4 separate regions of the Homo sapiens genome follow, and all the other regions are linked to region 4. Evidence: fine-mapped expression QTL. A gene starts in region 4. Each other region holds a variant in brackets. All regions are shown on one strand. Distances are between the middles of the regions.

Region 1 (5,616 bases), 86 kb after region 4:
GACTCAGCACAGGGACTAGCATTGCTGGTTCTGCCAGTCTGAGCTCATGATAATCAGCCAGTTATATAGAAATGGCCATTCCCATGTTGCAATGCAGTAGTAAGTGCTTGCTGTTGTCAATATTATCAGCATTTTTAAGAATACTTAGCATAAGGTGCAGCATATATACTCAATAAATGGCAGTTATTATTTTTTATATTTAAGCACTATTGTTATAAAGTGTGTGACACAAGGCCTGGTATCGACACTCTATAAATATTAGTTATAATAGTAACAATAGGAATAATAAGAATACTTAGGGCCTGGCACATACTAAGCACTCAATATACTTTAATTACTGTCCCAACTGTTATTATCAGCACCTATTATTTCTCGTGAATTACAAGGCACCTCAGAATTGCCATTTTCCCCTTCTCATCCTGCCCGATATCCTCCATGGTAACCAGCCTCATGGTAACTAAACACTTTTCTCCCTCCAACCTCTTTATTAAGCTTCAGGCCCACTTCATCATGTCAGCTCCAGGCAAGTAGGTCTTTCCCACTTCTCCCGAGGTGCCCTTGTCCCTGGGCACAAGCCCAACCTCCCAGGAGGGTGCGCTGGCAACCAAGCCAGGCTTCTGTTCAGTGACTCCACCTGCATAGCCAGCCTGCCATGTGCTGCAGCCCCCTCGCTCACCCAGGCCCCAGCTCCCTGCTCCCCTCAAGTCTCCCTTTTACTGCTCTCCCCTTACCCAAACTAGATCCTGGCACACAGATTATTTTTGTAGGTGGAGGAGAGGAGACAATAAGAACAACAATACCCAACACTTATATAGTCCCTGACATAGGCGGACACCGTTCTAAGTGCTGGGCATGGATTAACTCATTAATCCTCAAACCAAACCTATGAGGCAGATACTGTTGTCATCCCTGTTTTATAAATAGGGAAACCAAGGCACAGAGAGGCAACTGACTTGCTCTAGACAATGCAGCTAGTAAATGATGTAGCCAGGATTGGAACCCCTTAAGAATATTACATGAAATGATGCACAGAGTGCCTGATACCAGTAAAGATTTACTAACACCCAAGATTATAATGATCACACTGTTGTTATTACAGGGCAGATTCAACAGCAGTGTTCACTCCTCTCTCTGGCCGAGTTTGGCACTTTCAGTAGCAAAGGAGGAACAGAGTGCCTTGGTCTACAGAAGCAATTCACCTGCTGGGAGGAGAGGAGTGGGAAATTTTTTATGTTAATGTAAAATTCTCATAACACAAAATTAACCATTTTAAAGCGCACAATTCGGTAGCTTTTAGTGCATTCACAATGTTGTACAACCCCCACCTCTATCTAGTTCCAAATCATTTTCATCACTTCAAAAGGAAACCTCATACATGCCATTAAGCAGTCATTTCCCATTCCTCTGTCCCCGAACCCCTGGCAGTCACCAATCTGTTTTCTGTCTCTATGGATTTGCCAATTTTGTATAGCTCTTACAGATGGAACCATACAATATATGTTCTTTTGTGACTGGCTTCTCACCCTGAGAATAATGCTTTCTAGGTTCATCCGTATAATAGCAGGTATCAGCAGGTCATTCCTTTTATGGCTGAACAATATTCCATTTTTGGATCTACCACATTTTTTATGTGGATGAAGATTTTTTAAAAAAATTTTTATTTCCATAGGTAATTGGGGAACAGGATGGTGTTTGGAAGTTCTTCAGTGACGTTTTGTGAGATTTTAGTGCACCCATCACCTGAGTGGTATACAATGCACCCAATTTGTAGTCTTTTATCCCCTACCCCTTTCCCAGCCTTTCCCCCTGAGCCCCAAAAGTCCATTGTGTCATTCTTATGCTTTTGCATCCTCATAGCTTAGCTCTCACTTATGAATGAGAACATACAATGTTTGGTTTTCCATTCCCGAGTTACTTTACTTAGAATAATGGCCTCCAATTTCATCTGGGTTGCTGCAAATGCCATTATTTTGTTTCCTTTATGGCTGAGTAGTATTCCATCATATATACATATATATATATATATGTATGTATGTATATAATATGTGTGTGTGTGTGTGTGTGTGTGTATATATATATATATATATATATATATATATATATATATATATATCACAGTTTCTTTATCTACTCATTGATTGATGGGCATTTGGGTTGGTTTATGTGCATGGAGATTTTAAAGGAGCAGTTCCAAGGTTCCTCCCAGTCTATTGCCACAAAGATAGTGCTGCTGTCATAAAGGCAGAGGTCTGAGAAACCTCATCCTGCTATGGTGAAAAAAAAATCCAGAGGCCAGGCGCAGTGGCTCACACCTGTAATCCCAGCAGTTTGAAGACTGAGGAGGGTGGATCATGAGGTCAGGATATCGAGACCATCCTGGCTAACATGGTGAAACCCCGTATCTACTAAAAATACAAAAAATTAGCCGAGTGTGGTGGCATGCACCTGTAGTCCCAGCTACTCGGGAGGCTGAGGCAGGAGAATCGCTTGAACCTGGGGGCAGAGGTTGCAGTGAGCCTAGATCACACCACTCCCCTCCAGCCTGGTGATAAAGCGAGACTCCGTCTCAAAACAAAAAAAGAAATCCAGAGAGGAAACCTGCCGTAAGAGAATGCCCTAGCTAGGGTCAAGGCCAAAAACTCCAATGCCCACGTCAAGGAGTGGGAAGGGCTGGGAGTCAGAAAGTAGGGAGGGTCACTGGTGACCTGCAGTATCTAAAAACCTTCAGACTCAGAACTGTTTAAAATCATGCTTACTAAACAGAACCGTCCAATGGACCACTTTCAATCACTGTACTTGTAACCTCTAGAATGCCAACATTCTAGAAGACTATGATACCAACTCCAGCTTTGGCATTAAAAAACAAAAAGCATTGGCCGGGCATGGTGGCTCATCCCTGTAATCCCAGCACTTTGGGAGGCCGAGGCGGGCAGATCACCTGAGGTTGGGAGTTTGAGACCAGCCTGGCCAACACAGAGAAACCCCATCTCTACTAAAAATACAAAATTAGCCGGGTGTTGTAGTGCATGTCTGTAATCCCAGCTACTCAGGAGGCTGAGGCAGGAGAATCACTTGAACCCAGGAGGCAGAGGTTGCAATGAGCCAAGATCGTGCCATTGCACTCCAGCCTGGGCAATAAGAGCGAAACTCCATCT[CAAAAAA/C]AAAAAAAAAAAAAAAAGCCTTGGCAAATTTAACATCAGGGTGTAGCAGAGAGGTGGGTGGCTTCCCCAACATTAAATCAGCCCCAAATGTTACAGGTGTGGAGTGTGCTATAACCAATCAGAGAGATAAGACTGACTGCTGACTCTGCTAACGATTAAAAATGGCCTTAATACCTGGCTGACAGATAGTTTTGGAGATTAACATCTCTATCTCTGAGTCAGCTGATACAGAAATAGCTAATCCTTCACTTCCATAACCTTCATAGTAGGTTTTAACTGCAGAGCCTGGAATTGTGGGTGACAATCTCAGAGGACAGGAGGAAGTGACTCATGGAACCAGGAGTTGAACAAGCAGAAAATGTTGTACTCTTACAAAAAGCTAGAGCTCTGCCTTATAAAATTGGTTTCTTTATCACATAACATTCCAAGAAAATAAATTTAGAGTGTTATCTGGTATTTAGCCCTGTGGTTCTCAAATTATGAGTCATAAAATCACCTGGGGAGCTTGTTAAATCACAGATTCCCAGGTCCCACCTCCAGGGAGTTGGCGTCAGTGGCTTCTGCAGGGGGGCCCAGGAATCTGAATTTTACCAGACTGCAAGACAGGTGATCCACAGGTCACAGTTTGACACACCCCAATATAGTGAATATGTTTGTAGACTCAGTCTGGAGTTGTGGCTGTCTAATCAGAGTCTAGATTGTACTACTTGTCCAAATCTCTGGGCCCAAGTTAGAGAAGCCAACTGCCTAAGATAGAATGCCATGTTTCTTTTGTTTATTTATTCACTCAATGAGTATTTATTGAGAATCTGCAGTTCCTGCAGATATATCTGTAGGTATAACAGACATGAATCCTCTCCTCATAGAATTTACATTCTTATCAGGATAAATGGGTGGGGCAAATAATTATCTTCTCGGTACAGTAAAACCTGTTAAGATGGAAACAGAATCTCTAAGGATTTGGGGGCTGGTAAACATCCCTTAGTGTAAGTACTGTGTGCTGAGTCTCCTTCCTAATATCACTGCTGAGCATTTATATACCCAATGTGTACTTAAACACTTTTAGGGACAAGGGCTTACTGTCAGTTGAATAAGGCCATTCAGTTCTTAGGTGTTAAATGTTCCTTGCCTGAACCTTCTGCCCTTAGTCCTAGTTCTACAAAACAAATGAATGCCTCTTCCTACAGAGAGTCATTAAAATCTGTAAAATCAGCTTTCACCATTCTGTTAAGTCTCTTCTTCAGGGTAAAGACCCAGCCTTAGAATTGCATTTGAGTCCCCTTCCTAGGATAGTCACCATCCTCTCATGGGTGCATTATACCTAGTATCTTTTTGAAAAAAAATACAAAGGTAGGGTCCAATGAGTCATTCACATGCATTTCTTTGTTAAACACACATGGGCCAGGCACTGTTTTTGGCTCTGGGGATAAAGTCCACTGAAGAGAATAACCATCTTCTTCACCATGATGTTATCCTTCTGTTAATGTCACATTGTTGAGCTATTGGCCTAGGGAATAAGCTCAGAAGACCGTTATTTCACAGGGATCTTCATGAACAAATCATCTTTTCTTGCATTCTTTATGTAAGTTTATTGCTAGCTACCAACTAACTTTTTTTAGCCTCTTTTATTTACAGATATACTACCAACTCCTAAATTCTGATTTTTTTCATTTCTAATTATATTTTTTTTCTTGTTTGATCCTCCTCTCCTTGTTTCTTATGTAAATATGCTTTCCGGTATGCAGAGTGCTGAAGTTAATGGCCATTTTTGGCTCAGTTTTATTTCAGAGTGAAATGCCAATGTTATGGGGTTAGAAAGCAAAAGAGACCCTCTAGTCTGACCCCCTCGCTTGACACATTATTTCCTTGTATGAGGACTTCTGCCCTCTTGATCTTTCCTATGTCTCTTTAACTTAAGTTCATGACCTCCTCAGACCTCTGTGTCCATCTCATCCATTTCCTACAGTGACCTGTAACATGTGTTTCCTGCCACAGCCACAGTCATAAACAATTCCTGATAGATTCGGAAGCAACTCAGAGAGGAACCGGAAACGCTCTCTCTAATAACTCCCTAAAGTAAGAATCCCAACACACAGCTTGGTAGTGGACACACCCTGTGATTGCTGGATCAAGCCACAGACTCAGAGTCCCTCTACTGGGCTCTGAGAACCATTGCATTTTACTTTAGAAAGAATTAAACCCAGTTGAATAATAAGGAATACCCAAGTATGTCGGCAGACAAAAATCAAAGATTCTTGTTCCACAAAAGACAAAACTGCCCGTAAAATTAGAAACTTGGAGATGAAAATAATCTTCAAGGCCACCCAAATCCCACCTTATTGTTCTTCAGATGAGGAAACTGGGACCCAGAGAGAGGATGTGTTAGGGGCTGAGCAGAGACAAAAAACACAGGCCTCCTCACTTCAGGCCTCTCTTCTCTTTTTCACTCCGATTT
Region 2 (5,616 bases), 49 kb before region 4:
GCCTAAGACAAATTGATCACCATTAAGCTGGATGAGATAAAATGAATCCTAGACAAAGGATGGTGAGAGGCCCCCATTTAAGTCCTGATTCTGCCCCTCTGCCTCATCACGAGGCTGAGAGGCTGAGCAGCTTGTCCAAGGGTGCATTCATCAATTATGAAATTGAAACATAATCTCTGCCCTATGTGCTTTACAGAGTGGCTGTGAGAGGAAATTCAGAAGTATCTTTGGAAGCATTTTGTTAATTTTGAGATGCTGGGGACATCATCAAAATGAAAAACTTTTGTGCCTCAAAGAACACCATCAAGAAACTGAAAAGACAACCCAAGAAGACAAAATTTGCAAATCTTATATCTGATATAATATAGAATATATAAATAAATATATATATACACATATCTATAACATATAAAGAATTCTTACAATTTAAAAATCAAAGTAAAATAAACCAATTTAAAAATAAACAAAAGAACTGAACAAATGTTTCTCCAAAGAAGATATATAAATGGCCAATAAGCTCATGGAAAGATGATTGACATCATTAGTCCTCAGGGAAAGCCAAATCCAAACCACAATGAGATACCACTTTATACCCACTAAGATGGCTACAATCAAAAGGCCAGAAAATAACAAGTATTGGCAAGGATGTGGAGCAATCAGAACCTTAATACAATGGTGGTGGGGATGTATAATGGTGCAGCCACTTTTAAAATCCAGTCTGTTAGTTCTTCATCATTGATATGGTTTGACTCTGTGTCCCCACCCAAAACTCATCTTGAATTGTACTCCCATAATTCCCACGTGTTGTAGGAGGGACCCACTGGGAGATAATTTGAATCATCGTGGTGGATTCTCCCATACTGTTCTTGTGGTAGTGAATAAGTCTCACAAGATCTGATAATTTTATCAGGGGTTTCTGCTTTTTCATCTTCCTCATTTTCTCTTGCTGCCACCACATAAAAAATGTCTTTCCCCTCCTGCCATAATTCTGAGGCCTCCCCAACCATGTGGAGGTGTAAGTCCAATTAAACCTCTTTATCTTCCCAGTCTCTGGTATGTCTTTATCAGCAGCATGAAACAGAGTAATACAGTAAATTGGTACCAGTAGAGTGAGGCATTGCTGAAAAAATACCCAAAAATGTGGAAGCAACTTTGGAACTGGGTAACAGGCAGAGGTTGGAACAGTTTGGAGGGCTCAGAAGAAAACAGGAAAATGTGGGACAGTTTGGAACTTTCTAGAGACTTGTCGAATAGCTTTGACAAAAATACTGATAATGATATGGACAATGAAATCCAGGCTGAGGTGGTCTCAGATGGAGATGAGGAACTTGTTGGGAGCTGGAGCAAAGGTGACTCTTGTTATGTTTTAGCAAAGAGACTGGCAGCATTCTGTCCCTGCTCTAGAGATTTGTGGAACTTTGAACTTCAGAGAGATGATTTAGGGTATCTCGTGGAAGAAATTTCTGAGCAACAAAGCATTCAAGAGGTGACTTGGGTGCTGCTAAAAGCATTCCATTTTAAAAGGGAAGCAGAGCATAAAAATTTGGAAAATTTGCAGCCTGGCAATGTGGTAGAAAAGAAAATCCCATTTTCTGAGGAGAAATTCAAGCTGGCTGCAGATATTTGCATAAGTAACAGGGAGCTGAATGTTAATCCTCAAGATAATGGGGAAAATGTCTCCAGGGTATATCAGAGATCTTTATGACAGCCTCTCCCATCACAGACCTGCAGGTCTAGGAAGAAAAAATGGTTTTGTGGGACAGGGCCAGGGTCCCCATGCTGTGTGCAGCCTAGGGACTTGGGCTCTGTGTTCCAGCCACTGAAAGGGGCCAACACAGAGCTCAGGCCATGGTTTCAGAGGGTGCAAGCCCCAAGCCTTGGCAGCTGCCACGTGGTGTTGAGGCTACGAGTGCATGGAAGTCAAGAATTATGGTTTGGCCTGGATTTCAGAAGATGTATGGAAATGCCTGGATGCCTAGGCAGAAGTTTGCTGCAGAAATAGGGCTCTCATGAGGAACTTTTGCTAGGGCAGTGCAGAAGGGAAATGTGGGGTTAGAGCTCCCACAAAGAGTCTCTACTGGGGCACTGCCTAGTGGAGCTGTGAGAAGAGGGCCCCCATCCTCCAGATCCTAGAATAGTAGATCAACCTACAGCTTGCACCATGTGCCTGGAAAAGACACAGACACTCAACACCAGCCTGTGAAAGCAGCTGGGAGGGAGGCTGTACCCTGCAAAATCACAAGGGTGGAGCTGCCCAAGACCATGGGAACCCACCTCTTGCATCAGCATGACCTGGATGTGAGACCTGAATTCAAAGGAGATCATTTTGGAGCTTTAAAATTTGACTGCCCCACTGGATTTCAGACTTCCATGGGCCCTGTAACTCCTTTGTTTTGGCCCATTTATCTCATTTGGAATGGCTGTATTTACCCAATACCTGTACCCGCGTTGTATCTAGGAAGTAACTAGCTTGCTTTTGATTTTACAGGCTCATTGAGAGAAGGGACTTGCCTTGTCTCAGATGAGACTTTGAACTGTGGACTTTTGAGTTAATGTTGAAATGAGTTAAGACTTTGGGGGACTGTTGGGAAGGCATGATTAGTTTTGAAATGTGAAGACATGAGATTTGGAGGGGCCAGGGGTGGAATGATATGGCTTGGCTCTGTGTCCCCACCCAAATCTCATCTCGAGTTGTACTCCCACAATTCCCATATGTTGTGGGAGGGACCCAGTGGGAGATAATTTGAATCAGAGTGGTGGAGTCCCCCATACTGTTCTCGTGGTAGTGAATCAGTCTCACAAGATCTGATGGTTTTATCAGGGATTTCTACTTTTGCATCTTCCTCATTTTCTCTTGCCACCACCATGTAAAAAGTGCCTTTCGCTTCCTGCCATGATTCTGAGGCCTTCTAGCCATATGGAACTGTAAGTCCAATTAAGTA[T/C]CTATTTCTTTCCAGTCTCGAGTATGCCTTTATCAGTCAACAGCATGAAAATGGACTAATACAGTCATGTTAAACATAAGAGTTATTATTTGATCCAGCAACTCTACTGCTAGTTTTGTATCCCCAAGAAAAATGAAAAGTTATGTTCACACAGAAACTTGCACATGAATGTTTATGGTTACATTATTCATAATAGCCAAAAGGTAGAAACAATCCAAATGCCTGGTAATTAATGAATGAATACAAATGTGGTATATGCATACAATAGAATATTATTCCCCAATAAAAATAAATGAAATACCAATACATGGTACAACATAGATAAACCTTAAAAACATTATGCTAAATGAAAGAAGCCAATTACAAAAGACCACATGCTGCATGTATGATTCTACTTCTTTGAAATGTCCAGAATAGGCAGATCTATACACACAGTAAGTAGTTGCTTGGGGCTGGGAGGTATGGGGGAATTGAAGAGTAATAGCTAAAGGGCACAAGCTTTCTTTATGACATGTCACAAATGTTCTAAAATTGATTGTGATGATGGTTGCACAACTATGTGATTATACTAAAAATCACTGAACTGTACAATTTAAATAGGTGAATTGCGAGGCTTCAAGATGGCTGACTAAAGGCATCTGGTGCTTGCCTCCTCCACAAAGAAGAATCTAAATAGAGTAGAACACTTTGAATATATCATCTAAGAAACTACACTGGAATTCAACTGAGAAATGACAGGAAAATCCAAAGCAAGGAAGCAGAGGGAAGTCAGGCAGTCTGCTTGGCCAGGATTGGCTGGGAGCCTGGAGAGGCTCCACAATGCAGCGAAAGAATGAGTGAGTGATTCCCAGAGATTAACATTTCCACTATAGACTCCTGCATCCTCTGCATGGGAAAGCCCTAGACCCTTGCAGTCTTCAAGACTAATATCAAAAGCTGCCTGAAGATCAAAGGCATTGTTCCAGAAAGAGAGCTCATGCTGGGCCCCACACACCCCAAGCCCTAAGCAGCTACAGCAAAATGCCATATTGAGAGCCCAGCTTCCAAGAGACCACAGACTCCAAGGCAGAAGAGTAAGCCATTAGCAAAACCCCACTGCCCCCCACAATGAAGCCACTGCATATTTTCATGCATCGCAATGACAAACCCCCCTACCCTCAACAGCTGCTTATGGCTGCCACTGCCAGGATTCAAGCATGAGCAAAATGCATACTCCCCAGCCACCTGCATATGGCTCCTGCCACTAAAAGCAACCCTGCCCTTCCCACAAGCCCTGAGCAGGCCTGGAGTGCAGCCACTGCAGTCCCCACCTGAACATTCTGCCTTGGGCCTGGAGATCACCCCACCCCTGCCAACCATAGCCAGCACCTGCAAGCCCCACTAGCAGACCTAAAGGACACAATTGCGTGGCTCACTCCACCACCCAAACCTCCTAGTGCCAGAGCACACAGTGCAGGGACCTGGAGACTGCTTAGTCCAGTCCATCACCATTGGCACTTGAGCCCTTCTCCCAGGGGCCTGAGGTGAGGCTCATTCGGCCTGCCACTGCCACTGCAGTTGATACTCACCCACACATGCTACCAGTGGGCCTAAGGCTCACCCTGCCTCTGCCTACCACAGCTAGTACCTGCAAGTACCCCTGGGAGGACTAAGGACCAGTTTGCCCAGCCTTGCTCTGCTCCCCCACCACCAGTACCAGAGCATGTGGTCCAGAGACCTGGGGACCACCCAGCCCAGTCCACCATTGTTGGCACCTGAGCACTCCTCCTGGAAGCTTGAGTTCAAGCCCACCCAACCTGCCATTACCACCACAGTGGGCACACACCTATAGGCCTACGGACTGGCCCACCCAGCACATCACAGCCACTGTCAACACAAGTACAGACCATGTAGGACCCAGAGATTAGTCCATCTACTGCTACTACAATCATCCATGCCATGACCATTGCCCAGGGGCCTGAAAACCCACCCGCTTGCCTAGCCCAACTCTGCTACTACCAGCACCTGAGAAAGCCACCTGGGGATCCAAGAATTGGACTGCCTGGAACCACTGAAACCAGTGCCAATATATGCCACCCTGGAGCCCAAGGGCAGGCATGCTCAGCCCACTGCTGCCACCACAGAGGTCTGAAGATAGGACCACCTGGCATTGCTGTATCCAGCAAAACTTTGCCACAGTCTCCACTCCACTAACAATTGCACCCTAAGCCACTCAGGAAATCACAGACACCACTGACGATGTTTACAGCTGAAGAAATCATATGGAGACCACACTGCTGCACACATCCAAAATCAATGGCAAAGTGCCCGACCCAACCAACACCATAGATACATCTTCAAAAAAGTACCCTCCCCTATGAAAGCAAATTTCAAAAATTGAAAGAAACAACTGTTACACCAGATGCATAGACATCAATGTAAAAACATATGAAACATGAAAAAGCAAGAGAATATGACACCTCCAAGAGAACACAGTAATTCTCCAGCAATAGAGTTCAGTCAAAAGGAAATCTATGAAATCCCAGATAAAATACTCAAAATAATGATGTTAGAGTAGGAGGGAAAATGGCAGCTAGGAGGAAGGACTAACTTGCAGTTCCTACTTGGATTGGCAGAGCAGCATGTGGAGACTTACACAGTGAATGTTTGCTCCAAGAACCACCAAAAGAACAAC
Region 3 (5,616 bases), 22 kb after region 4:
GACCAGCCTGGCCAACATGGTAAAACCCCGTCTCTACTAAAAAAAATTACAAAAATTAGCCAGGCATGTTGGTGCACGCCTGTAATCACAGCTACTCAAGAGGCTGACACAGGGAATCACTTAAACTGGGGAGGTGGAGGTTGCACTGAGCCAAGATTGCACATCTGCACTCTAGTCTGGGCGACAGAGTGAGTGAGACTCCGTCTCAAAAAAAAAAAAAAAGAAGGAAATTACTCAGTAAATATTGATGAATAAATAATTGTGCCAACAAACATGAACTTTGGTTTATAAACTTTGTAACCTACTTGTGCTGATTTGGGACTTTCTGCTTGGAGCCAGGTCTTCCCTAGGGCATGGTGGGTGCCAAAAAATGACCCCAGGTTAAAGTTGGTGTCACTGTAGTGTGCTCACTCAGGAAAAGCTTTTTGTGTCAAGGGACTCAGGAAAGGCTTAGGACATCCTGTGCTTTGGAAGACAGAGACACTTTCTAGTTATGGCTATACTTGATGGCCCATCTGTTGGGCTGTAAGCTGGGGGTTCTGTGTGCACCTCCAGGCTGGGAAGAATCTGAAGTACACACAGGCTAACTGTCTAACATGGGGGAATTGTCCTCCATCTCCAGGGCCCTCCTCATCCCAGGCCCAGCAGTGGGCCCAAGAGCGAGTAGAATGAATGCCCGTGTTCATATCATCTTATTCAGCTCCTTTCCCATCTCTCGGCCAGCCATGGGGCTTCTTAGCCCTAATCCCCTCCCTCTATCTCTTCCCAATAATCAGACCACCTTCTTTCTTGGGTTTTCCGGGTGTGGATGTGGCTGCCCTCACCCAGGCCATTTCTGTCCTTTGAGTTAGTCCCAGGTCCGGAGCCTGTCCTCTAGCCCAGGGCACCTGGGCATCACCCACAGCTCATCTGCCCGCGGGAGCTCTCTGAAACCTTCTGTTTACAGTGGAAAGTGTTTGCTGACCTGGATTGTTTTGGGTCTGTGACATCAGTGCTATGGGAAATGCTCCTTAGCCAGTAGCAAAGTCCACTTGAGGGTACACACTTAGAGAATGATCCGGGAAAGACTTAGGGACTCCGAGCTAGGTGAGAAGTCCACCCTTCCCTCCACCTACTTCCTCCATGGCCAAAATTCTGCCTTCCCTCTCTGCCTGGCTGTCTCTCTTGAAATCTGTATTCTTTTCAGCAGATAATGTCAATAAGCCCTTTATGTGAGTAGGATTTGGAGCTTCTCTGTTTCTCATCTGAAAATCTGCCCTGTGCCAGTGAGTTTGGGCCTCTGGCCCACACGTTAATTATTGTACCAGGATTCCTGGAGTCGACTGGGGACAGAGTGCCTCTTTGGTTAGAAGAGGGGTATTCTGGCAGTATTTCTTTTTTGAGGCATTAATCTAGCTTAGAGAGGCTGAGCAAGTGAAAATCGTTGTGTGTTCCTTTGATATTTTTTCCTTTCCTGTTTGAATGCCACACTTAGCTGGGGTTTGGGAATCAAATGTTAATGAATCTCTTGGGGTTTCTTGAATTTAATTGTAATAGTCATTTTTTCTGCCATTAGTACCAAGGAAAAAAGCCAATATTTTAGGGCACAGAATGGTAGAAAGGGGTCTACTTTGTGTGTGTGTGTGTATGCGTGGGCTGTGTGTGTGTGTGTATGTGTATGTGTGTGTGTGTGCGCCTATAGAGAAAAGAAAGCTTACTGAACTAGGAGTCAGAACACCTGTGTTGAAGTTTGGGCACATTCCCCAATTCCCCAAGCCTCAGTTTGCTCATCTATAAAATAGCCGGAGTGATCCTTGCCTCACCTGATTCGTGGTTGGTGATGATCAAATGAGGCAATGAATGAGAAAGCCTTTGCGTTAGCCTCTGTTTTGCTGGTTATTAAACAGATGCCTTCCTCCCTTGACTGTTCTTTGAGAATAAAGCCAGAAAAGATTTGAATTGCTTTTTTTATTACTTTTGGTTGCTGGCTGTGTTTCTTTCAATCATTAAAATTTAATACAACTCGACACAGAAATTGAGCACAAGACAAACACAGCTTTATTGGGGTTATAGGTAAATGGGGCAAGGTAAAAAGACTCAGTTCATTGTGGGTCTAGTGTCCTCATATACAATTGTCTTAATTTCAAAATATTTCATCCCACTGTTAGGCCATGCATCCCTTCATGTGTTTCAGTATCTCATTCCAAAAGCATAGTCTCTACAACTAAATGATGATCAAAAGAGACACAGAATAGTGACCATAGGATAGAGGCTTTGCTTCTTCTCTTTGTGTCTGGAAGGGCGTGAGCAATCCAGACCAGAAAGAAAGAAACCTTTCATCATGCCCGTCAGAGCAGGTGACTCATTTTGGCCGACAGACCCACAATTTCACCTTTCAGTTCCTTTTACAACTCCCAGATGAATGGTGCTGTCACCAGGATTCATCAGTATCTAGATTGGGAAGAACATCCTGTGTGCCCCTCCGTAGGCCTCATTTTTTTGCCAGTCCCCTCACTCAATGCTTTTGACACTTTTCAGCTGCTGCTTAGACAGTTTCTCCTGATGGCTAACCTGACCAGGGCAGTGGGGCATGAGCAGGCAGGACTTCTCCCTGCTGAAAGCCACCTGCCTCAAAATGTGTTTTCTAGGACGCGTAACCCAGCTGAACAGGAAGCATCTCTGGCGTGTCTGTTTTGGAGTGGGAATCTCCCAGTGTGGAGAGGGAGCAGGATGCATTGGAAAAGAAAGGAGGCCAGTGAGGCTGCTTTCTCCTGCCGGAGGGGAGCAGGGTCTGCGACAGGCTGGGCAGGCCAACAGGGGCCAGAACACACAGGGCCTTGTGGACCATGGCCAGGAGTCTGGCTTTATCCCAAGGGTGGAGTGAAGTCATTGAATGGTTTTAAGTTGCCACTGGAGGTGGTGGGAGTCCGGGTTAAGCATCATCAGATTGCATTTTGAATGTATCCCCCTGGCTACTGTGTGTAGAATGAGTGAGGAAAGGAGACCACTCCTTACAACATGTTGGGATCCTCTAAGCAGCAGATGATGGGGCTGGGACTTGGGAAGATAGGGCAGGGCACCTTCTACTCCAGGGCCATTGCATGGTCCTGATTCCCTGACAGCTTTTATATCCTTTATGCTATTTAAAATAATTATTTACAGTCTATCTTAGTTAGCTAGAGCT[G/GC]CATAACAAAATACCACACACGGGGTGGCTTAAACAATAGGAATTTATTTTCTCACAGTTCTGGGTTCTAGAAGTCCAAGATCAAGGTATGGGCAAGGTTGGTTTCTTCTGAGTCCTCTCTCCTTGGCACATAGGTGGGCATCTTCCCCCTGTGAGTTCCCGTGGCTGTCCCTCTGTGCTTGCCTGTGTCCCATCCCCTCTTATAAGGACACCAGTCATATTGGATTAGAGCCTATCCTAATGACCTCAGTTTGACTTAATTTTCTCTTTAAAAACCCTATTGCCAAATAAAGTCATATTCTGAGGTACTGAGGGTAGGGACTTCATCATGTGAATTTGGGGGGTGAGAGAGACAGGGACAGGAGGACCCAATTCAGCCAACATGGAGTCCCTCCTCACATTTTCTCTTCCCCTAATTTCAAGTCTGTGCTTATCCATCACTGTCTGGAGGTGTCTCTGCTTCCTTTGTTGCTGCTTTTAGGGAAGATGGTTTTTCCCCAGGTGAGCCCTTCTTGTTGGTCACACAACAAGTCAACATTTTGTATTTCCAACATACTTTTTTATTGGATTTCCTATAAAGGGTATTTAGATAGTCTTTAATATTTCTATTATTTTTTATTGCCCACCCCCCTAAAGCATGGTAACCATGTTATATGTAGTAAAAGTTGCATAACCATTTGACGGGTTTCATTTGGGTTTTGTTCTTCCACCAGAATGGTGGGCCTGACTGTGTTGTGATTTCCATTACAGCGTTGTTTAGCCACAGAAATCTCCTGTGCTGGTTGTTTCGTGGGAACGAGTGTGTTGCATTTGCCTTCCTTGCGGGCTCAAGAATACCTGTTGTGAGAAACAGCTGTCACATTTATGCTGACCAAAAACTTAACTCCTCAGCTCACCCCATAGGTGTGTCCAAATGTTTGTTGAGTGCCCACAAGAATACTCCAGGGTACAGAGAACTGAGTAGCATCCCTCCTCAAGTAATTTGAAGTCTGATAAAGATATAAAACAAATGAAAAAGTAGGTACATTATAGGTAAACTATGCTGTAGGTCAGTGGTTCTCAAAATATAGTCTCCAGACCCACAGGATGAACATCATCTAGGAACTTGCTGGAAATGCACAGTTTCAGTCCTTACCCTGGACCCCCTGAGTCAAAAACCCTGGGTCATGTGTTATAACAAGACATCCAAGGATTCTGATGCATACTCGTTTGAGAATGCATCAGGATTGAGAATGCATCCGTTTGAGAACCACTGCTTACCCATAAGAAGCGCATGACATGAGATTTTTAAAGAAAGCTCATATTTGGAGAGGGAGGAGGGGAGAAGCAGGAAGTATTTCTAGAAGTATGTTGCATATGAGATAGGCCTTGAGGAGTGGGTAGGATTTTTATATTTATATGTAGATGATCATATTTACTGTAATTGCCATCTGTATGTTTATGTATTTCTTTTACAAAAGTAATTAACAGCCTGGACTCTAACTTGAAAGATCTGCTAGCTGTCCCTTTCTTGCATTTTAACTGGCTCACTGTGAATCGAGGCTTCCATCAACATATGCTCAGTTGTAGAACTGGTAATTATGGTTGGAGGCTTTTTGTTGGAGGACACATTTCATTCCAAACATAGTTTCTGAACATAGCTTGAATTGAAAGTAGAGATTCTACCTCTATATACTTAAGACAAAATCAATTCAAAGCATCCTTGAATCTCACAGTGGGAAGGGGCCTTCAAGGTCATCTAGTCTAATAACCCAGGCAAATAACCTCTGAGCAGGCTTTGTAAAATAGGTATAATCAGTTCTTCTCTAGCCCACTGAATGATTCTGTATACTTCTCTAGCCCATTGAATGATTCTGTAGCAAGAGTGGATAAACTATGGCTCAAGGGTCAATTCTGACACACTACCTGTCTTTGTATATAAATTTTTATTGGAACACATTTTTGGGAATACATTTATGCATTGAATTGAATACATTTATGTATACATTTTATTGGAATACATTTATGTATTGTTTTTGGTTGTTCTTGCACTATAATAGTGCAAACCTTTAATCTCCTCTTTAAGACTTTGTATTAGTAAGAACTCTTAGAGTACAAGTAACCAAAACCCAGTTCCAACTAGCTCAAGTGAAACAGGAATCTATTGGCTCCTAAGCCTTTGAAGTCAAAAGAAGATCTCCCTGAAGTAGCTGTTCACTTGATATCATGCATGTGGTTCCAAATGGATTGTCTTTTGTATGTACGCTGCCCTAGTCATGTCTACTGCACCTCCTGGAAAGACCTTTCTCCCTGCTCACTCATTCTGATTACTTCTCCTCCCTTCACTACTCATGTTTATTTCATTCCATTCCATCCACTCCTCTAAGTGCAGATCTTTCTTCTGCTGTGGTGGCATCAGCAGCTGTCCTGTGAACACTAGGCTGAGAGTCACAAGTACCGGGTGCTAGTCCTGA
Region 4 (5,616 bases):
CAGTTTCCCGGTGAGATTTGTTTATCTCCATTCTGGAGTCTTAATGTTCAAAACAAACTTCCAGACAAAGGGATCCTCTGCTCTGTGGTTCTCAGCTCCATTCTCCTGCAAGGACAGAGTCAACAACACCGATCCCCTGATGACTTTCACAGCCATGTCCACAGAGAATCCCACCCCCAGCTTCCTCCTGCGTCTTTCCCGCTGCCTCTGATTGTTGTGGACATCCTCAAGGGCATAGCTTGTATAGCTTATTTTAGCCCCTTTTTTCCTATCCTTATAAACTATGCAGAGAAAATAAGATTGTTCCCCCGGCAGATGTTATTTGGGCCTTAAAAAGTGGCCCAAGACCCAGTGATCTCTTCTAAGAGGTGAAGTCATCAGCATCTAGCTGGATACATTATCGAAAAGAACCCCAGACAAGAAGAATTCATCAATTAATCTCATTAATTGATGAATAATTAATTCATTAATTCATCAATTAATTTATCAATTAATTAATCACCTGAAAATTTTCAGGCATATTTTCGTGGCCACCACTCTGTGGAAAAGCCCAACAGATTTCCATAAGTAGAAAATGACAGCATTGTCACTGAGGGCAGGTATAAGTGAGGGGTGATATTAATAATTAGTATGCAACCAGCCTTTATTTGTCATGCATTACACTAAGTCCTTTAATATATACGACAATCCAAAAGGTAGGCACTGTGGTTGTACCCTTGTACAGATGAAAACTTTGAGGCTTATAGAGGCTAAGTATCTTCCCCAAAGTGAGACAGCTAGAAAGTGATGAAGCTGAGATTAAAAGTCAGGAAGGCTGGAAACGGCACCTGGGCTCTTCCCCAGGCCACCATCGGGTTTAGCTAATTTATATTTTGCTTAGTTAATTGTCTCCCCGCTGTCCCAGGATTGGATTTATGCTTATGAGGTTGGAGTTCTTTTTATTTCTTTATTTTTTATTTTTTCTGCAATCATCCATTATTGGGTAGAGCTCTTGTCTGTCCTGTTCTCCACGGTATCCCCAGAAGCCAGCACTGGGGCTACCACAAAGCATACCCTCGATAAATAATTGCTGAGTGAATGAACTAATGAATGAATATCATGCTTTCATTTGACTATTTCTTATAATTTGAAATTTTCTGAACATTGAGGCCTTGGGTGATAACTAAATATGCTCATGGAATAGAACAGTTAATTTTACATGTCTAATTTATCTGAACTTTCTCCCAGAAAAATGTTTTTCCAAGCATTAGAATCTAGCAAGTTACCTGCAACTTGGAAACTGAACAAGGAATCCCATCTGAAAATGTAGAGGACACATAAAGTGGAATAATTTAAATATTTACTAATCACTTACGTTTTCAAAGCTATTTTAGGCCTCTACCCTTTTCAAAGAGCTGTCTATGAATCACCTGGGATGCTTGTTTCAAATGCTGAGCAAGGGAGTCCAGGGCCTGGGAATCTGCATTTTTGGAGGTATCTCAGGCGTTTGTTATCGACACAAAATTTTAAGAACGACCGTGAGGACATTAGGGCTATTTTTACCTCCACCCCATTGGACAAAATTCTTTTTTAAAAAATTATTATTATACTTTAAGTTCTAGGGTACATGTGCACAACGTGCAGGTTTGTTACCTAGGTATACATGTGCCATGTTGGTTTGCTGCACCCATCAACTCATCATTTACATTAGGTATTTCTCCTAATGCTATCCCTCCCCCAGTCCCCTATCCCACAACAAGCCCCAGTGTGTGATGTTCCCCTCCCTGTGTCCATGTGCTCTTATTGTTCAACTCCCACTTATGAGTGAGAACATGTGGACAAAATTCTTAACAATCTATCAAATGTGTTTCAAATCTATTGATCCTTAGGTTTATCCAAAGATTCTTTAATCCTGATCACCTCTCGGGGTCATGAGCCATATCCTTTTTTTCCTCCCTGTGTAAGGTAGAAACGTTGTATTTATCTAAAAGCATTGTATAAAAACATCGTATTTGTCTTTCCCCAATTTTAATAGGGCAGCTATCTAATCTCACACTGATATCCCAGACTTTAGTGCACTGAGCCACTCTCACACAGGATCAAGCTAGAAGTGAGAAGATCTGGTCCGATTCTGCCACAAGATGCTGTGTGTCTTAGGGCACGTTGCCCAGCCTCTCTGACACCCTGTTTCCTTGTCTAAGCTGGGGCTGTGAGTGTTCACAGCCTTTTGAGTCTGCACATGCTCTAATTGAAGTCATGCTATAGACAAGGATCATGTGCCCTCACAGTCTTGTTTTTCAGCACTCAAAAGTCATGCTTCTATGATCATGAATTAGGTTCAGAAAGTGACAGAGTAAGTAGTCACAGGAATGTAAAGAGCCCTACCCCACTGAATCAATTGTGACTAAAACACTTTGGAATATAAACTTCTACAATACACACGTATAAGACATAATTACAAAAAAAAAAAAAAAAACAACAACAACTTGGGGGAAGAGTTAGTTGACCATATGAAAACTAGGGTGGACCTGTGAGGCCACATACCTGCTGTTCTCCTCAGACGGGGAAGTGTTTCAGGGTGGGGCGCCTAGGCAGTCTACTCTTAGGGCTGTGTAATATTAAACCCAGAAAATGTCTGGGTTGCTCTGTCAACAAATATTTATTGGTAGCCACTATATGCCGGGCCCTGTGCTAGGTATTGGGGGCCTGTAGGTGAACCCTACGGACAGACCCATTCTTTCACGGAGCTAACATTCTCGTGGGGAAAAGAGGTAATAAACAATTCTAATGATGAATCAGCGATAGAGGATAAAGGGAATCTGTGAGGGAAGAGGGGACATAAACGCTGGGAGGCTGGAAGAGCCCCTTACGTGTTATCCACTTGTCCAGACGCCATATTCATAGTTGAGAAAGATGAGGCAGAGACGGTAGTGACCGGCTTGAGCCTAGACTGCGCCAAGCTTGCCAGAGCAGAGCCGGGTGGAAACTGTCTTCCTGCAAAGCCAGGTTTTCCTTCACGGCCCCTCCTAATGATGTTTCTTTTCCTATCATTGTCGAGCCCTTAGAACCCCAGGATCGAGGGAGGGAAAACAAGCGCTCAAGCACTCCCTCGTTGGTCCCAGGACACAAGGCCTCGTCCATCTCACAAGGCCTCGTCCATCTCCCATCACACCCTAGGGCCCAGGCAGAAGCCCGGCGGGGCGGGGCCTCGGACACGCGCCGGTGCGTCCAGCAGGTGGCAGCAGCGAGCGGCCGCGCCCCCTGCGCTGCCAACCCGCGAGCCCGCATCATGGATGTCGAGCTCCCCTATTTCGCATTGCTAGCCCTGGAATTCGAGACCCCAGACGAGGACCAGGATTCATGAAATCAGTCGCAGGGGCCGGGGCAGGGGCCTCTGGCTCCCGACACTGGCCGAGAGGTGGGTTCCGGGGCGGGTCGCTGCTCCTTGAAGCCGGGCGGGGACGCGCTGCCCCCGCCCTGCCTCCCTGTGGTCCACACCCCCTTTGGGCTCCGGAGCCGCTGGGCAGGAATAGTCCGGGGTGCGCGCGAGCAGGCGCTGCCAACCCCACTTCTGCCCGGGATTCCAATCTGAGGAGCAGGAGGACCGGGGCGCCGGTGTCCTGCCGCCTCCTTCTCCTTGCTCTCACCTGCGCCTATTAGTCCACGCGCCTTCAAGGCCAGGGGCTACAGCCCAGACAGAGAGGGGACAGCAGAGGGAGAGAGAGCACCTGAGGATACAGAGCTGGCACTGGACTGCCTTTTCACCCCCCAGGTGATGAGTGAGGTTCGAAGAACGGAAGATTTAAAAAGCAGCCGGGGCCTCCGTATTGAATGAAAGACCCAGTGCAAAGACATCACCATGAACACTAGCAGTAAGTGGATCCTCCTCTCCTTTGCCATGGGAACAGGGGTGGGGGCGGGAGGTGAGGGAGCCTGCGCTCGGGCTGCCTGGAAAGAGGAAGGAAGCCTGGCATCTCTGGACACATGACCCCCAGGCTCTTTTTTGGTGCTTTCCGTGCTCCTTGGCAGAGGGATAGCTTCATGACTCTGGCTTTTCGTGATAATTTTGCCAATATTTTATCAGCGGCGCCGGCCGCCTCTCCTGGGAAGGCTGCTCGTCTCCTTCTAGCACTGCCTGGGAAGGCCTAGGAAGCAGTGTGTGGCCATTGTCTGACTGTGGGGGCTCTGAGGAGAACTCCCTGCACACATCTGGAAAACCATGGAGGGCCCTGCCTGTCCCAGAGGTGGGAAGAGCAGGGAGGCTGGCCTGTGGGCAGGCGGGAGGGTAGGTGGGTGTGGGCAGGCAGTGGGCTGGGAAGCCGCAGTTTGATAAACAAATAATCGCCAAGCCACCTTTGGGTCTGGAGATTGTGAAAGATCCAGCTCCCGAGTGCCTGCAGCCCGGTGGGCCCAGGGCTGGTTTCTCTATGTACCTGCAGGCTGGTTAGCTATCCTTGAGAACAAGAAGACAGGAACAGCCCTTTGGCCAAGGGCTCTAACATGCCAGAGGCAACAACTGCTTGCAGAGCCAGGACCAGATATTTTGCTGCCAGGTAGGGCCTCAGCTACTGAGAATGCAGTCCGAAATTCAAGAAGGCACAGTCTGTTTCTCTTCAATGTAGCGCTGTGACCTGGGAGGGCATATCTTGGTTCCAGACTCACTCTCCTGCCCTCTTGTCAGCTTGGCCTGTCTAGGTTATTCCAGCATCGCATAGGGCTGTTGAACCAGAGAACCCCTATGAACAGTCACTTCCCTGGGTCTATGACTTTGTTATCAGTCCCCTCTCTGCATCTCAGACTGCTCATCTGTATGATGAGAGGGGTTGAATTAGAAAGCCTTCTAATCGGCCAGGCACCGTGTTCCATGCCTGTAATCCCAGCACTTTGGGAGGCAGAGGCAGGTGGATCACGAGGTCAGGAGTTCGAGACCAGCCTGACCAACATGATGAAACCCCGTCTCTACTAAAAACACAAAAATTAGCCAGGTGTGGTGGTGTGGGCCTGTAATCCCAGCTACTCAAGAGGCTGAGGCAGGAGAATTGCTTGAACCTGGGAGGCAGAGGTTGCAGTGAGCCGAGATCACACCACTGCACTCCAGCCTGGGCGACAGAGTGAGACTCTGTCTCAAAAAATAATAATAATAATAATAAAAGAAAGCCTTCTAATCTAAGAATCTACACTTTTTTTCTTAAAAAGCTAGAGCTGAGCAACAAGGCCAGAACTATCAAGACCTTATTGAAGCTGTATCCAGCCAAAACCTACTATTTCCTCACACACCCCACCCCACCCCCACCTCCTAGCATGGAAGAGAAAAAAAAAAGCAAAAGCTACTGAGATGAAAATAAAATATATTTATTTACTACGTATTTGTATGATTCATCTCTCTGCTGTCTTCCTTTGTGTATTGCATATCTATGCTAAGCTAGCGAGTGTGGCTGGACTCCCTCTGCCTCTTACAGCCAAAGAATTTTGCCTTTTGATTTTGACAGGCTGGAATGGTGTTTTGGCTTCATACCAGGCTCAGGAAAAGAGGAAAATCCTGTAGCCTCTATCAGCTAGTGGGTCACATGTTTGCATTTGCATGTTTTCAGGCAAATAAAGATGTGAGTTGCCTGTCACTTCTCACTATCTCTAGGA

Which allele goes with the higher level. Alleles are on the strand shown, and positions count from the first base shown. SD is a standard deviation of normalised expression in the study named. Not every link is listed here.
As copies of C replace CAAAAAA in region 1, the expression in prefrontal cortex of the gene that starts at base 3,236 in region 4 goes down (moderate effect, 0.44 SD a copy in BrainSeq).
With allele C in place of T in region 2, the expression in whole blood of the gene that starts at base 3,236 in region 4 is lower (small effect, 0.37 SD a copy in GTEx).

Evidence for each region. PIP is the estimated chance that this variant, and not a neighbour inherited with it, causes the effect.
Region 1: its variant is the best candidate, but not a certain one, in a credible set for the expression of ABLIM3 in prefrontal cortex (BrainSeq, PIP 0.79).
Region 2: its variant is the best candidate, but not a certain one, in a credible set for the expression of ABLIM3 in whole blood (GTEx, PIP 0.53).
Region 3: its variant is the best candidate, but not a certain one, in a credible set for the expression of ABLIM3 in whole blood (INTERVAL, PIP 0.57).

What each region holds. Positions count from the first base shown.
Region 1 is chr5:149,223,915-149,229,530 of GRCh38, forward strand. The region is part of intron 8 of ABLIM3 (actin binding LIM protein family member 3); the gene reads left to right. Among named protein-coding and RNA genes, the nearest start is that of AFAP1L1, 45 kb to the right of the region's middle. The variant CAAAAAA/C (reference allele first, on the strand shown) is at 3,156.
Region 2 is chr5:149,089,098-149,094,713 of GRCh38, forward strand. The region is part of intron 2 of SH3TC2-DT (SH3TC2 divergent transcript); the gene reads left to right. Among named protein-coding and RNA genes, the nearest start is that of SH3TC2-DT, 29 kb to the left of the region's middle. The variant T/C (reference allele first, on the strand shown) is at 2,943.
Region 3 is chr5:149,160,255-149,165,870 of GRCh38, forward strand. The region is part of intron 2 of ABLIM3 (actin binding LIM protein family member 3); the gene reads left to right. Among named protein-coding and RNA genes, the nearest start is that of ABLIM3, 22 kb to the left of the region's middle. The variant G/GC (reference allele first, on the strand shown) is at 3,164.
Region 4 is chr5:149,138,258-149,143,873 of GRCh38, forward strand. It overlaps ABLIM3 (actin binding LIM protein family member 3), which reads left to right and starts at 3,236. Exons shown (of 24, transcript NM_014945.5): 1 at 3,236-3,397; 2 at 3,752-3,851. The coding sequence starts at 3,839. It overlaps LOC124901102 (a long non-coding RNA gene), which reads left to right and starts at 3,859. Exons shown (of 2, transcript XR_007058988.1): 1 at 3,859-4,532; 2 at 5,176-5,341. RefSeq lists a silencer at 3,102-3,351 and enhancers at 3,657-4,158, 4,159-4,658.